4 linked regions of the Homo sapiens genome follow. The protein of the gene in region 1 interacts with the protein of each later gene in a pairwise test. Each region holds a gene or a part of one and is shown on either strand. Other genes may lie near its edges.

The links. Proteins that work in one complex are often made in the same cells at the same time.
Region 2: the proteins of ATPAF2 (region 1) and FNTB interact in binary tests that used the Homo sapiens proteins (3 or more experiments, as listed by UniProt).
Region 3: the proteins of ATPAF2 (region 1) and UBAP2 interact in binary tests that used the Homo sapiens proteins (3 or more experiments, as listed by UniProt).
Region 4: the proteins of ATPAF2 (region 1) and VWC2 interact in binary tests that used the Homo sapiens proteins (3 or more experiments, as listed by UniProt).

The regions. Positions count from the first base shown.
Region 1 is NC_000017.11:18,019,713-18,022,250, reverse strand, and holds part of ATPAF2 (ATP synthase mitochondrial F1 complex assembly factor 2), read left to right. Parts: intron 1-393; coding exon 394-506; intron 507-587; exon of another isoform or gene 588-829; intron 830-1,012; coding exon 1,013-1,128; intron 1,129-1,252; coding exon of another isoform or gene 1,253-1,291; exon of another isoform or gene 1,292-1,611; intron 1,612-2,538. UniProt on the Homo sapiens protein: Plays a role in the assembly of the F1 component of the mitochondrial ATP synthase (ATPase).
Region 2 is NC_000014.9:65,028,395-65,032,091, forward strand, and holds part of FNTB (protein farnesyltransferase subunit beta), read left to right. Parts: intron 1-3,697. UniProt on the Homo sapiens protein: Essential subunit of the farnesyltransferase complex. Catalyzes the transfer of a farnesyl moiety from farnesyl diphosphate to a cysteine at the fourth position from the C-terminus of several proteins having the C-terminal sequence Cys-aliphatic-aliphatic-X.
Region 3 is NC_000009.12:34,038,691-34,042,387, forward strand, and holds part of UBAP2 (ubiquitin-associated protein 2), read right to left. Parts: intron 1-3,697. UniProt on the Homo sapiens protein: Recruits the ubiquitination machinery to RNA polymerase II for polyubiquitination, removal and degradation, when the transcription-coupled nucleotide excision repair (TC-NER) machinery fails to resolve DNA damage. May promote the degradation of ANXA2.
Region 4 is NC_000007.14:49,776,638-49,780,334, forward strand, and holds part of VWC2 (brorin precursor), read left to right. Parts: intron 1-3,697. UniProt on the Homo sapiens protein: BMP antagonist which may play a role in neural development. Promotes cell adhesion.

The sequences.
Region 1 (2,538 bases):
AAAACCATTTTAAATATTGTTTTTAACTTTTATATGTCCTCAAATGTGAAAAACTTTAAAGAGATGTAAAAGGCAGATGGCCTTTTGATGGAGATTCCAGGTGAATGAATGAGCATTTCAGGCAGCTGCGTATAACCGAGCCCTAGCTCACATGACTCAGGAACCATCCCTTCATTCAGCACAGTTTCTTGGTCCTCCAAGTTTGCTTTTGAGGGACAGAAAATCAGGTCGGGAGGCCACTGACCATGGTGGCAGTTGCTCCTGTAGTCAAGACTAGCTCCTTGGCCAATGCACACACATGCTCTGAAGCTTAGGCCTTTGTTTCTAGTCAAAAGGTGGGCTGCTCTTGGGCTACAGCATGACAGAGACATGCCGAAGCCCTTTTCCTTTCAGATACGGCGTGGAGATCAGCTCCTCCACCAGCATAATGGGACCCAGCATCCCTGCCAAAACTCGGGAGGTGCTCGTCAGCCACCTGGCATCTTACAACACATGGGCTTTACAAGGCATGTATGGAGTTTCTTGTGGGCTTGGCAGGTGGCTGTGAAGGCCATCAGTGTCTGAAGCCTGTACTTGCCCCTCCCCAGGTCCTGTGAGTGGAGAGGCACAGAGTGTTCTGGGCTAGCTGAGTGTGGAGGCTGGGTGGCTCTGATGCTAGCCAATCACTCTACGCTCTAGGCTCACACCTTTCCACCTTCGACTTCGCCAGCAGAAGTCTTGAGTTCAATCTCATTGCCCTGGCTTGGGTCACATGTCCATCCATGAACCAATCACTAGACTGGGTGCGGAAAGCTCTGATTTGCCAAGTTCGGGTCATGTGTCTCACTAGGTAAGAGCAGAGGAGGATCACCCCCAGGGAAGACCAGAGTGCTCTTTCAGAAGAGTGGGACAATCGCTGGATGGCTCTTTGCACCACTCACTCCTGTTCTCTGCTAGGGCTGCTGGGACTCACAAGGGGTAGGTTGTGGCAGCTGCCCTGTTTTGGGTTCTGACTTGGCTTGTGTCCCTGCAGGGATTGAGTTTGTAGCTGCCCAGCTCAAGTCCATGGTGCTAACCTTGGGCCTGATTGACCTGCGCCTGACAGTGGAGCAGGCCGTGCTGCTGTCACGCCTGGAGGAGGAGTACCAGGTGAGGAGCAGCACCTCAGGTCCCGCCTCCCCCTTCCTAGTTCAGACTCACTTTGGGGGAGCAGCTAACCCATCTGAAATATAGTTATGCATACTTGGCTTTTATTACTTTTATGTACACGCAGAAATCAAAATCAAGGACCAGCAGAAGTATTGTCAAGTAGGCCTGGCATGGTGGTTCACACCTGTAATCCCAGCACTTTGGGTGGCTGAGGAGGATGGATCATTTGAGGTCAGGAGTTTGAGACCAGCCTGGGCAACATGGCAAAACCCTCTCTCTACAAAAATACAAAAATTAGCACCTGTAGTCTCAGCTACTTGGGAAGCTGACGTGGGAGGATTGCTTGAACCTGGGAGGTGGAGGTTGTAGTGAGCCAGGATTGTGCCACTGCATTCTAGCCTGGGTGACAGAGTGAGACCCTGTCTCAAAAAAAAAAAAAAAAAAGGTAAGATAATAACAATAAAAAAATAACAGTAAGTGCTACCGCTGTGTTCCTGCATTGTATCCATCTCACCTCCTCTCAGCAGCCTGGGCAGGTAGGAGCTGTGGTTATCTCTGTTTTACACAGAAGGAAATGGAGGTGCAAGGTTGCACCTCTGGAAAATGTGCCAGCTGGGGTTTGAAGCCAGGTCTGGTGATTTTAGGGCCAAGGCCGTCAGGCCTCACTCTGCACAAGGAGGTTCACGGGTGGATAAAGACCATCTGGGCTTGATAAAGCCTGCAGAACAGGCCCTGCCAAGATGACTGAGAACCCGTTTGTGCTCCTTCATCAGCTGAGCCTTCATACCCTGACATTTTATCTGGCTGGCAGAGGAGCATAGGGGTAGCTGCTGTTTGTATACAAGTTTTGATTTAGTGGGCTCAGAATTAAGGTTTTGCCACAGTATGGTTTGCATTTTTTAACTCTGAAAATTATAGCCATCTTTGCAGTCTTTTTATTGTTATTCCACCAACCTCAGAAGGTTAATTGCTATTATGAATTGGTCCCTAATATGGTAAAAACAAACAAACAAAAAAACACAAAACTTTTTGTGATGTATTTCCCTAGTTCTTGTAGTCTTCTGCTCAGAAAAATGCCAGGGAAAAAACTATTTTTGTATAACAAAGGAGGCCCGCTACTATTCTCTGGATGTCAGAACTGATTACATAGGAAGGGGGTGACTTGTAGGGCTGGTGGGAAGCCAGTCTGGGCTCTGCTTCTGACTATGGGACCCAAGCCAGGCCATCATTCTCTGAACTTTGGTTTCGATCCTCTACAAACAGAGGAATAACCTGAATTATGTATGTGATGGTATACAATGAAAGTATGGAATACTCTTCAGATGACATATTACAATTGTACAGTTTGGGACCAGGCAGCCCAGAAGTTCAAATAGCTTGTGTAGCATGGTGGATTCTGAGTTCCTGGAT
Region 2 (3,697 bases), on another chromosome or scaffold:
TCATTGAATAAGCCATTTCTCTAAGACAGTGGCTTATTGAGATTTTATGCCATTTTCTTATTATTTAGTTGAGAAATACATTTTGTGAGGTTTCTATAGCAAAGCTGTCTTACTGCCTATGTGTAAATGGGTTTGCTTCTACACAAGTTGATTAATAGTCTGGCTTAAGCATCTGGTTTAACCATTGGTTTGAAAGTATAGGGGAGGAAAAAACCACGAACATTGTGGAGCATAAAATACATTACAGATAATAGGTAATCAGGCTGCAAAGGCCTTTAGTTCAAGATGTTCTTCTATCTCTAACTTGTCTAATCCAACCAAAAAAATTAGATTAGGATCTGTGTATACCAGTGAAACCAGTAGAACGACTGAGGTAAATCAGTATGTGTTGATTCTTCTTAAGGAAAATGTTAAAAGAGTTTTTTTCCCTCGTGTTCACTACATTTTCGTTCCTGTTCTGTTGCTATTCCCCCAAAATATGCACAGTCTTGAAACGCAGCTTTTAAAAACCTACTAAGATTATTAGGCAAAAGCAAACAAATCATAGCAAGATCCTTTTGGTATTTTATCATATACCTTTTGCAGCTGTGATTATTTGCTATCTTATTCATTCCAGCACTTTTTTTTTCCCTATGCTCTTTATTTATATGTTCTAGATAAATGCTAGGAAACTTCTCCAGTAAGGCAGCTTGGTTCCCCTGCCAAGCACTGTAGCCATATTCTTCCCTGACCTTTGCTCTTTGGGTGATGCTCTGCCATTCGTGCCCGTGCTTTCTATTTACATAAAGGATTAAAGATATGAATGATAGAGAAAAGCTAGCAGATTGCATCCATTTTCCTTGCTTTGCCTGGTTTCTAGTACCCCGATTCCATCATTTTTCACTTGGCATTTCTTTCATTGTCCTTTGCCTGGAAGCATCAGCCAGTCCTCAGGAGTGCTTGTTTGGGTGGATTTGACTTGGAGAAAAGCAGCAGTGATGGGAGAGTTTGACATCTGGAGACTAGCTCGCTGCCCTTCTGGGATAGACAGCAGTCTCTGGATGATCTTTCTGCTCTGTTACACTGCTGATAGTTTCAGAGATGAGCCTACTCAAGGGTCTGTAGTTCCAGTGTATTGTAAAAAATCAAATCACAGTGAACTCATAGCAAGCACTATTTTTTCTCAGTTCTTAAGAAAGGAGACCTCCTTTCTAGGTTATATAATCTAGATCATTCTGTGAGGATAAGGTGGAGGCAGGGATCTAGCATTTGCAGAAGTTTGGTGAGAAAGCATGTGTTGCTCAAGAAAGGACAAGTTCAGTGTTGAAGTGTAGATGGCCTGGTGGGCAGGGGAGCAGTGGAGCTGGAGGGACAGGCTGGGAACAGGCTACAGAGGCCCTGAAATCTCCTATGGAGTCTGGAGTTTAGTGATGTGATCTGATTTGTATTTTCTTAGAAGTTTCCCAATTGCAGTGATGGACTGTAGTGTTCCAATAAAAGCCCTCTGGTTTCAGGGCTGGAGGGAGAGAGAGCAGGAAGACTGATCCAGGTTGAAGAAGGCTTGGATTTGGGTGATGGCAGCAAGGATGGAAAGTTAGTGGACAAATTCAAATTTGAGAGCTGCGATGACTGGGTGGAGGGAAAGGGGGAGAAATACATGAAAAGGTTGTATTACGTTTCCTCCCCATCTCAGCGTGAGACCTGGGACTCCTGTCTTCTGTCATCACTTCTTAGTCCTCACACTTGTGAGAGGCAAACTGTATTATAGGTCGCCTCCTACCTCACAAGTCACAATAGGATTCAAGAGCAAATGCATCTGAGCCTCTTTAAGAGGCCTACAATTGCAAGGAAATTAGACAGATCTTCAAAATTAGCTGCTGGTAGATGATCACATTTGGCATTGGCACTTGTGACTCTTGTGTGCTCCCAATGCCTGCTGGTGGAACTAAACTTCCACTGTGCCTTTGGCTGCTAAAAATGCTGGTAGGATCATAATGCATGCAGCTTCTGCAGAGACTTCTTTGGAATACCTCAGTAAGTCTGACTTCATGTTATATCTATACTGAGTAAGATGGAAACCAGGGCCGAGCGGCAGTGGCTCATGTCTGTAATCTCAACACTTTGAGAGACTGAGATGAGAGAATCACTTGAGGCCAGGAGTTCAAGACCAACCTGGGTAACACAGCAAGACCCTGTCTCTACAAAAAATTTTTAAAAAATTAGCCAGGTGTGGTGGCATGCATCTGTAGCCTCAGCTGCTTAGGAGGCTGAGGCAAGATCAGTTTGAGCCCAGGAGTTTGAGGTTGCAGTGAGCCATGATAGCGCCACTGCACTGCAGCCTGGGCAACAAAGTGAGATCCTATCTTAAAAAAAAAAAAGAAGATGGAAACTAGGCCCTTCTTTTATGTTTCTTAGGAGCCCTTAGGAATATACTTTTTGTTTGTTTTGTTTTGAGATGGAGTTTCTTTCTGTTGCCCAGGCAGGAGCGCAGTGGTGGGATCTTGGCTCACTGCAACCTCTGTCTCTGGGGTTCAAACGATTCTCCTGCCTCGGTCTCCCAAGTAGCTGGGATTACAGGCGTGTGCCACCATGCCCAGCTAATTTTTGTATTTTTAGTAGAGACGAGGTCTCACCATGTTGGCCAGGCTAGTCTCGAACTCCTGACCTCAAATAATCCACCTGCCTTAGCCTCCCAAAGTGCTGGGATTACAGGCATGAGCTACCATGCCTGGCCAGGAGAAGGATTTTTGAGCAGAATTCAAACCAATGATTTTTGTCTTCCCTGTGCCGGGTATTTGAAAAAACCATAGAGGGGAAGGAAAGGCAGTCTGTGTGTGTATACCATGACAGAGGGAGAAGCTGAAATAAAATGTGCCCCGAGAAGAATTAGGGCTGGGAGGATGGAACAGCAAGAATGATCCTAAATCAAGTATAATAATTTTTTGTGTTTGTTTTTTTTTTTGAGACAGAGTCTCACTCTGTTGCCCAAGCTGGAATGCAGTGGCATGATCTTGGCTCACTGCAACCCCCGCCTCCCGGGTTCAAGTGGTTCTCCTGCCTCAGCCTCCCAAGTAGTTGGGACTACGGGCACACGCCACCATGCCCAGCTAATTTTTGTGTTTTTAGTGGAGACGGGGTTTCGCAATATTGGTCAGGTTGGTCTTGAACTCCTGGCCTCGTGATCCACCTGCCTCAGCCTCCCAAAGTGCTGGGATTACAGGCATGAGCAACTGTGCCCAGCCTAATAATGCTTTTTTAAAAAATAGCCCGGGCGCGGTGGCTTATGCCTGTAATCCCAGCACTTTGGGAGGCCAAGGCAGGTGGATTGCTTGAGGTCAGGAGTTTGAAACCAGCCTAGCCAACATGGCGAAACCCCATCTCCACTAAAAATAGAAAAATAAGCCAGGCATGGTGGCATGCGCCTGTAATCCCAGCTACTTGGGAGGCTGATACAGGAGAATTGCTTGAACCCAGGAGGCGGAGGTTGCAGTGAGCTGAGATCATACCACTGCACTCTAGCCTGGGCGACAGAGTGAGACCCTGTCTCAATAAAAACCAAAACAAAAGCAAAACAAAAAATATAGACGTGCGCCTTTTTCATTTAACGTGTGTGTGTGTGTGTGTGTGTGTGTGTGTGTGTGTGTGTACTGGTGAGAGGTTTGAAATCAAGGCTCTTTTCTCCCTCTAGAGGTTTAAGGACTGTATTGGAGTGGACTCA
Region 3 (3,697 bases), on another chromosome or scaffold:
TGCCCGGCCGCCACCCCGTCTGGGAAGTGAGGAGCATCTCTGCCTGGCCGCCCATCGTCTGGGATGTGAGGAGCCCCTCTGCCCTGCTGCCCAGACTGGGAAGTGAGGAGCGCCTCTTCCTGGCCGCCATCCCGTCTAGGAAGTGAGGAGCGTCTCTGCCCGGCCGCCCATCGTCTGAGATGTGGGGAGCGCCTCTGCCCCGCCACCCCGTCTGGGATGTGGGGAGCGCCTCTGCCCCGCCACCCCATCTGGGATGTGAGGAGCGCCTCTGCCCGACCGCGACCCCGTCTGGGAGTTGAGGAGCGTCTCTGCCCGGCCGACCCGTCTGAGAAGTGAGGAGCCCCTCCGCCCAGCAGCCGCCCCGTCTGGGAAGTGAGGAGCCCCTCCGCCCGGCAGCCACCCCGTCTGGGAAGTGAGGAGCGTCTCCGCCCGGCAGCCGGCCCGTCTGGGAGGTGGGGGGCAGCCTCCGCCCAGCCAGCCGCCCCTTCCGGGAGGGAGGTGGGGGGCAGCCCCCGCCCGGCCAGCCGCCCCGTTGGGGAGTTGGGGGGCGCCTCCGCCTGGCCGCCGCCCCGTCCGAGAGGTGGGGGGGGCGCCTCTGCCCGGCCACCCCTTCTGGGAAGTGAGGAGCCCCTCTGCCCGGCCGCCACCTCATCTGGGAGGTGTACCCAACTGCTCATTGAGAACGGGCCATGATGACGATGGCGGTTTTGTCGAATAGAAAAGGGGGAAATGTGGGGAAAAGATAGAGAAATCAGATTGTTGCTGTGTTTGTGTAGAAAGAAGTAGACATAGGAGACTCCATTTTGTTCTGTACTAAGAAAAATTCTTCTGCCTTGGGATGCTGTTAATCTATAACCTTACCCCCAACCCCGTGCTCTCTGAAACATGTGCTGTGTCCACTCAGGGTTAAATGGATAAAGGGCGGTGCAAGATGTGCTTTGTTAAACAGATGCTTGAAGGCAGTTAAGAGTCATCACCACTCCCTAATCTCAAGTACCCAGGGACACAAACACTGCAGAAGGCCGCAGGGACCTCTGCCTAGGAAAACCAGAGACCCTTGTTCACTTGTTTATCTGCTGACCTTCCCTCCACTATTGTCCTATGACCCTGCCAAATCCCCCTCTGCGAGAAACACCCAAGAATGATCAATAAATACTAAAAAAAAAAAAAAAAAAAAAAAAATACAAGCCGCACACGGTGGCTCACGTCTGTAATCCCAGCACTTTGGGAGGCCGAGGCGGGCGATCACCTGAGGTCGGGAGTTCAAGACCAGCCTGATGAACATGGAGAAACCCCGACTCTACTAAAAGTACAAAATTAGCCGGGGGCATGGTGGCACATGCCTGTAATCCCAGCTACTTGGGAGGCTGAGGCAGGAGAATCACTTGAACCCAGGAGGCGGAGGTTGCGTTGAGCCAAGATCACGCCATTGCACACTAGCCTGGGCGACAAGGGCTAGACTCCGTCTCAAAAAAAAAAAAAAATTAGCCAGGTGTGGTGGCACGTGCCTGTAGTCCCAGCTACTAGGGAGGCTGGGGCAGAAGAATCCCTTAAACTCGGGAGGCGGAGGTTGCAGTGAGCCGAGCCCACGCCATTGCACTCCAGCCTGGGTGACAGAATGAGACTCTGTCTCAAAAAAAAAAAAAAAAAAAAAAAAGGGACAGAAAACAAACACACAGGCCAGCCAACTAGAAGACTAAATATAATGGCAGACATATATCCAAAATATCTGTAATTACAACAGATATGAATGGTCTCCATGCTCTAGTTAAAGAGGTTAGCTGATGGCTCACTCCTACAATCCCAGCACTTTGTGCGGGTGAGGTGGGAAGATCACTTGAGCCCAGGAGTTCACGACCAGCCCAGCCAACATAGCGATACACTCTAATTAATTAAAAAGAAGTTAGCAAGTTGCTAACTTAACAAAGCAAAATCCAGCTATGTGGCGTTCATGAAAGATATATCTAGAACATCCCACTACAATTGGCTAAAACTAAAAAGGCAACATAAAATGTTGGCAAGGATGTAGAACTCTTAAACCACTCAGTCTTTGAGAATGAATTCCCAATTCTTAGGGCATCCACTCTGTGTATAAGCTGAACTTTTTCCAGACACCTAGAATGAAATTCATTATGTACCATCCTTGACAGATTTGAGAAAATAGTAACTCAACTTTCTGTGTTCTGTGGTTCAGCTGACAAGCCTGAGAACAACTGTGCAACATGTGGAAAACACTTTAGCATTACTTAGTAAAAGTTACACATACCCTACATACAAACCAAAAATTCCACTCTCAGTTATGTAGTCTTGAGAAAATGGACTTTGTTTGTTGTGGGCAGGGTGGCAAATGTCCACATGAGGACAAGTAAAATTGGTAATCTCAAAAAACTGGAAATGAGACAAATATCCATCAACAATGAAATAGACAACATATGGCACATCCTTACAATGTAACCTCATACTACTATAAGAAATCAACGGGCCGGGCACGATGGCTAACACCTGTAATCCCGGCACTTTGGGAGGCCGAGGTGGGCAGATCGCTGGAGGTCAGGAGTTCGAGACCAGCCTGCCCAACATAGTGAACCCACAGCTCTACTAAAAATGCAAAAAAAAAAAAAAAAATTAGCCAGGCATGGTGGTGCCTGCCTGTAATCCCAGCTACTTGGGAGGCTGAGGCAGGAGAATTGCTTGAACCCAGGAGGCAGAGGTTGCAGTGAGCCAAGATCGCACCATTGCACTCTAGCCTGGGCAACAAGAGCAAACTCCATCTCAAAAAAAAAAAAAAAAACAAACAAGAGTCCATGACCAGCCTGGCCAACATGGTGAAACCCCGTCTCTACTAAGAATACAAAAATTAGCTGAGCATGGTGGCAGGTGTCTGTAATCCCAGCTACTCGGGAGGCCGAGGCAGGAGAATTGCTTGAACCAAGGAGGCAGAGGCTGCAGTGAGCTGAGAAGCCGAGATCGTGCCACTGGCATTCCAGCCTGGGCAAAAGAGCAAGACTCCGTCTTATAAAACAAAACAAAGAAAAAAGAAATCTACATGGGGGCTGGGTGCAGTGGCTCATGCCTGTAATACCAGAACTTTGGGAGGCCGAAGCAGGCAGATCACCTGAGGTCAGGAGTTCGAGACCAGCCTGGCTAACACAAGGAAACCCCGTCTCTACCAAAAAATACAAAAATTAGCCAGGCATGGTGGCGGGCACCTGTAGTCCCAGCTATTTGGGAGGCTGAGGAAGGAGAATCGCTTGAACCCGGGAGGTGAATGTTGCAGTGAGCCAGGATCGAGCCACTGCACTCCAGCCTGAGCAACAGACTGAGACCCTATCTCAAAAAAAAGAAATCAACATGGATAAATCTCAAGCATGTAAGAGTGAAAGAATCAAGCATCAGAAGAATCATACAATTCTTACATTGAGAATAAGACTGAAAATGGGCACTATTAAACCATATGTTGCTTACGGATATACATATAAGGTAAAATTATTGTAAAAAAGTAACAGTAGGCTGGGGTGGTGGCTCATGCCTGTAATCCCAGCACTTTGGGAGCTCAGGTGGGCGGATCATGAGGTCAGGAGTTTGAGACCAGCCTGGCCAACACAGTGAAACCCCATCTCTACCAAAAATACAAAAAATTAGCCAGGCGTGGTGGCGGGCACCTATAATCCGAGCTACTCGGGAGATGGAGGCTGGA
Region 4 (3,697 bases), on another chromosome or scaffold:
GCTCACTGGGTGCCAAATCATAGTGGATGGTGAAACCAACAAGTGCAGTTAATGGTTAAAAATTGTTTTGTTTCAGATGAGTAGTAGTAATGTTAATAATACCGGCCATCTCTCTAATGCCTACTGTGCGTCAGGATCCCGCTGGTTTTCATGTACGTTAGTTAAATCTCATCCCATGCTAGGAGGTGGATTATTATCCATTGTCTCCATGTTATGGAGAAGAGGAAACAGACACAGAATATTTAAATAATGTGTTGAAGGCAGAACAGCTATTAAGAAACAGATTCATATGTCAAACTAAGCAGTTCTACTCCATAGCTTAGGTTTTTAACCCTTATACTCTACTTGAACCAAAAGCCCAGCTCCACTGGGGCTTTAGTTTGGGTGAAGGTGCTGCACAGCATGCATGCACAGGCTCTAGGTAAAATCTCTGCCAGTGGGCTAGGGGCCTGAGAGAGACCTGCACAGGTGTTCAGTTATTCCAAACACCTCAAGGTAGGTTCAACCTATGGCCTGCCTGGACTTAGCCCATTGACTTACCAGGCCATAGCTGTCCTTTTCCCACCTGCAGAGGGCGTTATGGAACGTGCAGCTACTAAAGCAAAGGTTTAGGGAGGAATTCTGCTGGAATACCCCTCCTGGAATTAGCCTGTGAGATCTGCTAATTCCCAGGATGTGAAGCCCATGTAATTACTGACTTGTGGCAATGAATTATCAAGTGTTATATAAGTACAAAGCCAGGAAGGACAGATCTATATATAGTGTACAAAGTATGGAAAGAGTGCTGGAATTTAGAGTCAGGAAACATGGTTATTCATTCTGGCTTTACCACTAACCAGCTGCAGGACTGGAACAAAAGACATATGCCCTCTGGGTTTCTTTTCTCTTATCTGTAAGATAAGGGGCCAGCTTTCCCTAGGCTCATGTAGCAAAATATAACTCCAGGCATACATTGCTTAAGTACTCACATTTGACTGCAGCCCTTTGGAGAAAGACAACTGGGATGAGCAACTCATATGAACCACGCCCAGGCCATGCAAAATTAACTAAATCAGAAACCCTGCCCTCAAAATGCTTCCTGCCTACGGGAGGGTCTGGTAGATATCTCTCCAGGTGTTTTGGGTGCAGAACAAAAGTTCACAGGCAAATGTGTCCAGGTAAAGGAACCTGTGGGTGCTAGAAGAGCTCAGAGGAGGGGCCTTCCATTTTGGCCTGGAGCAGGGTCATAGAACACTAGAACAATTCTCTTAAGTTTTGAATTGGTAACATCATCGGCTCTTCTAAAGTCAAAGATAAGCAGTTGGTTTTTAATTAATTCCTTTTGTTGTTTGCACTATTTATAGTTTCATAGTAATTTTCTGGAATTGTCCTTAGAAGTAAACTGAGGAATTAGTAGCACTTTGATCTAGTAAGCCCAAATACTTCAGTGTCCACTTACCTACCTGAGATCACAGGTAAAGGAAATAATTCAAACTTCTGTCTTAACAATTCATGCTAAATGCTAGCAGCCATGAAGCTGCTTTTGTCTATGGAGGAGAGGGATCTCTCATTTAATTTCCTCTTTGCTACCTGTTTGGTAGTCCATAGGTAGAATGTGTTTTCAAACTCTGAGGATGGGAGATGATATTGACAAAAGGGAAATTGGAAAGATTACAATCTTAGGAAGAATTAAAATACCAGTAAAGCTATTTTTGGAATATTAAGTGCATCTTCCATCTTCAAATGACGTTTCATTCTAAACTTTCATCATTTATTACCAGATGCTGGGATGCACACATGCTTGAACGTTGCAAAGTTGTTACATATTTTTAATTATATGCTTGTTCTTACAATATGTCAACTACATAAAGATTTTATAGTGTTAGAGCATGTTTGCTCATTTTTGTTAGTATCGGGAACATTTCTAGGCATTCTGCTAATTTATCGTGGCCTTGTGCAAGCCATTTATTGTCTCCATTTTTGTTTCCTTCAATGTACAAAAGAGAAAGCAATGCTTTTTTTGAAGAATGTTGAAAATATGAATGTAGAATGGTATAGGGTTAGTTGTGAGTCCACGGGCTTTGTGGGTTGCAGTAATGGAGATTTGTCATGATGCTGAGTACCAGGGCACAGAAATTGTTAACATGCCTGCTCTGGGTATTCTGGGTTTCAGAGAGAGATTGTAGTCTGTAATGTGCATAGCACAAAGTACATGGAAAATGAAAAAGGAAAGCATTCTGTCTGAAGTGCTTTGCACTTCTCTGAAGAAAATGTGATTCAAATGGAGATTGTGGTACAGTCGGGTCATGCCTGGAACACTGTTTACTTTAGCAAGGAAGGAAGTGAAAGTGAGATTATTTGGGCCTCAGTCCCTGCAAGATGCATAGATCCTTTAACAGTCTGTTCTCTGCTTCCAGAGAGGGAGAGAGAGAGAGAGAGAGAGACAGAGACAGAGAGAGAGGGGAAATTACTAGTTATTGATGGAGGCTTGACCCTCTTTGAGCAGTAGATTAACTCCAGAGCCTGGCTGTGCTTGTGATGTGCAGGGTATTTGGCTCCGGCAGGAGTGCGGTTTCTCCCTGTCTTCATAGGCTTCTCTTTCTTTGGGCATGTTTTGTTGCTGCTTTCTCTACTCAGTTTTCTGCATATTCTAAACTTGTTTTTTCCCTTCTTTCTGTACTCTTTTACCCCATTAAAACTTCCTCTCTTTACAGCCTGTTTGATCTCAGTTAGATACTTGTGAAAGATCTCACTGACTCCACAAAATACCATTAAGCTGCTAATAATAATGAGAGTAATGTGTTCATTCCTCCAGGGATGGTTGTAATTTAATTTGTACATCCAAATAAAAACATAGTTAATAGTAGAATTTTCTCCACTGCCTCTCAAATGATACCAAGTGTCTTTTTTTCTTTAACTTATACCAGCAGGCATCCAACTTTGAATAAGGAAACTTGTCTATTGGCTTATTTTTTTTTTTCAGTAAAGGAATGATATTTTTAACTGTTTTCTGCTTCCTACAGTACATTAGTCTGCTAGGGCTGCCAGAGCAAAGTAACACAGACTGGGTAATTTAAACAGAAATTTGTTGTCTTGGAATAAATCTGGAAATCCAAGATTTTCAGACTTCCACATTTCCAAGTAATCTGGAAGTCCAAGATCAAGGTGTCAGCAGGGCTGGTTTCTTCCGAGGCCTCTCTCCTTGGCTTGCAGATGTCCATCTTCTTCCTGTGTTTTCTCATGGTGTTCCCTCTGCATCTGTCTGTGTCCACATCTCCTCTTCTTATAAGGACACACTCATATTGGATTGGGGCCTGACTTCATTTTAACTTAATTACCTCGTTAAAGACCTGTCTCCAGACAGTCATATTCTTAGCTACTGGCGTGAGGACTTCAAAATTTGAATTGTAGAAGCACACAGGTTAGCCCAAAACATAGTGTCAATGACCAAAATTGACTTCCTAAAACAGACCTAACGAGGTAGTAACAGTGGGGTGTGTGAGGATGCATCAGCACACATGATGGGAAAACAGTGCTTATGACGAAGGCACGGAGTGAGTGGTGATGAAGTGTATGCCAATGAACATTAACTGAGGGGCTCAACTTGACCATTCTGATTCTGTGTCTATTGCATTCTGAGAGCTACTTTAGGAGTTCCTGTATTACTTATGTGAATGGATCCTTGTGTCACAGAAAACTAAAAGGTGACTAAGGGTAG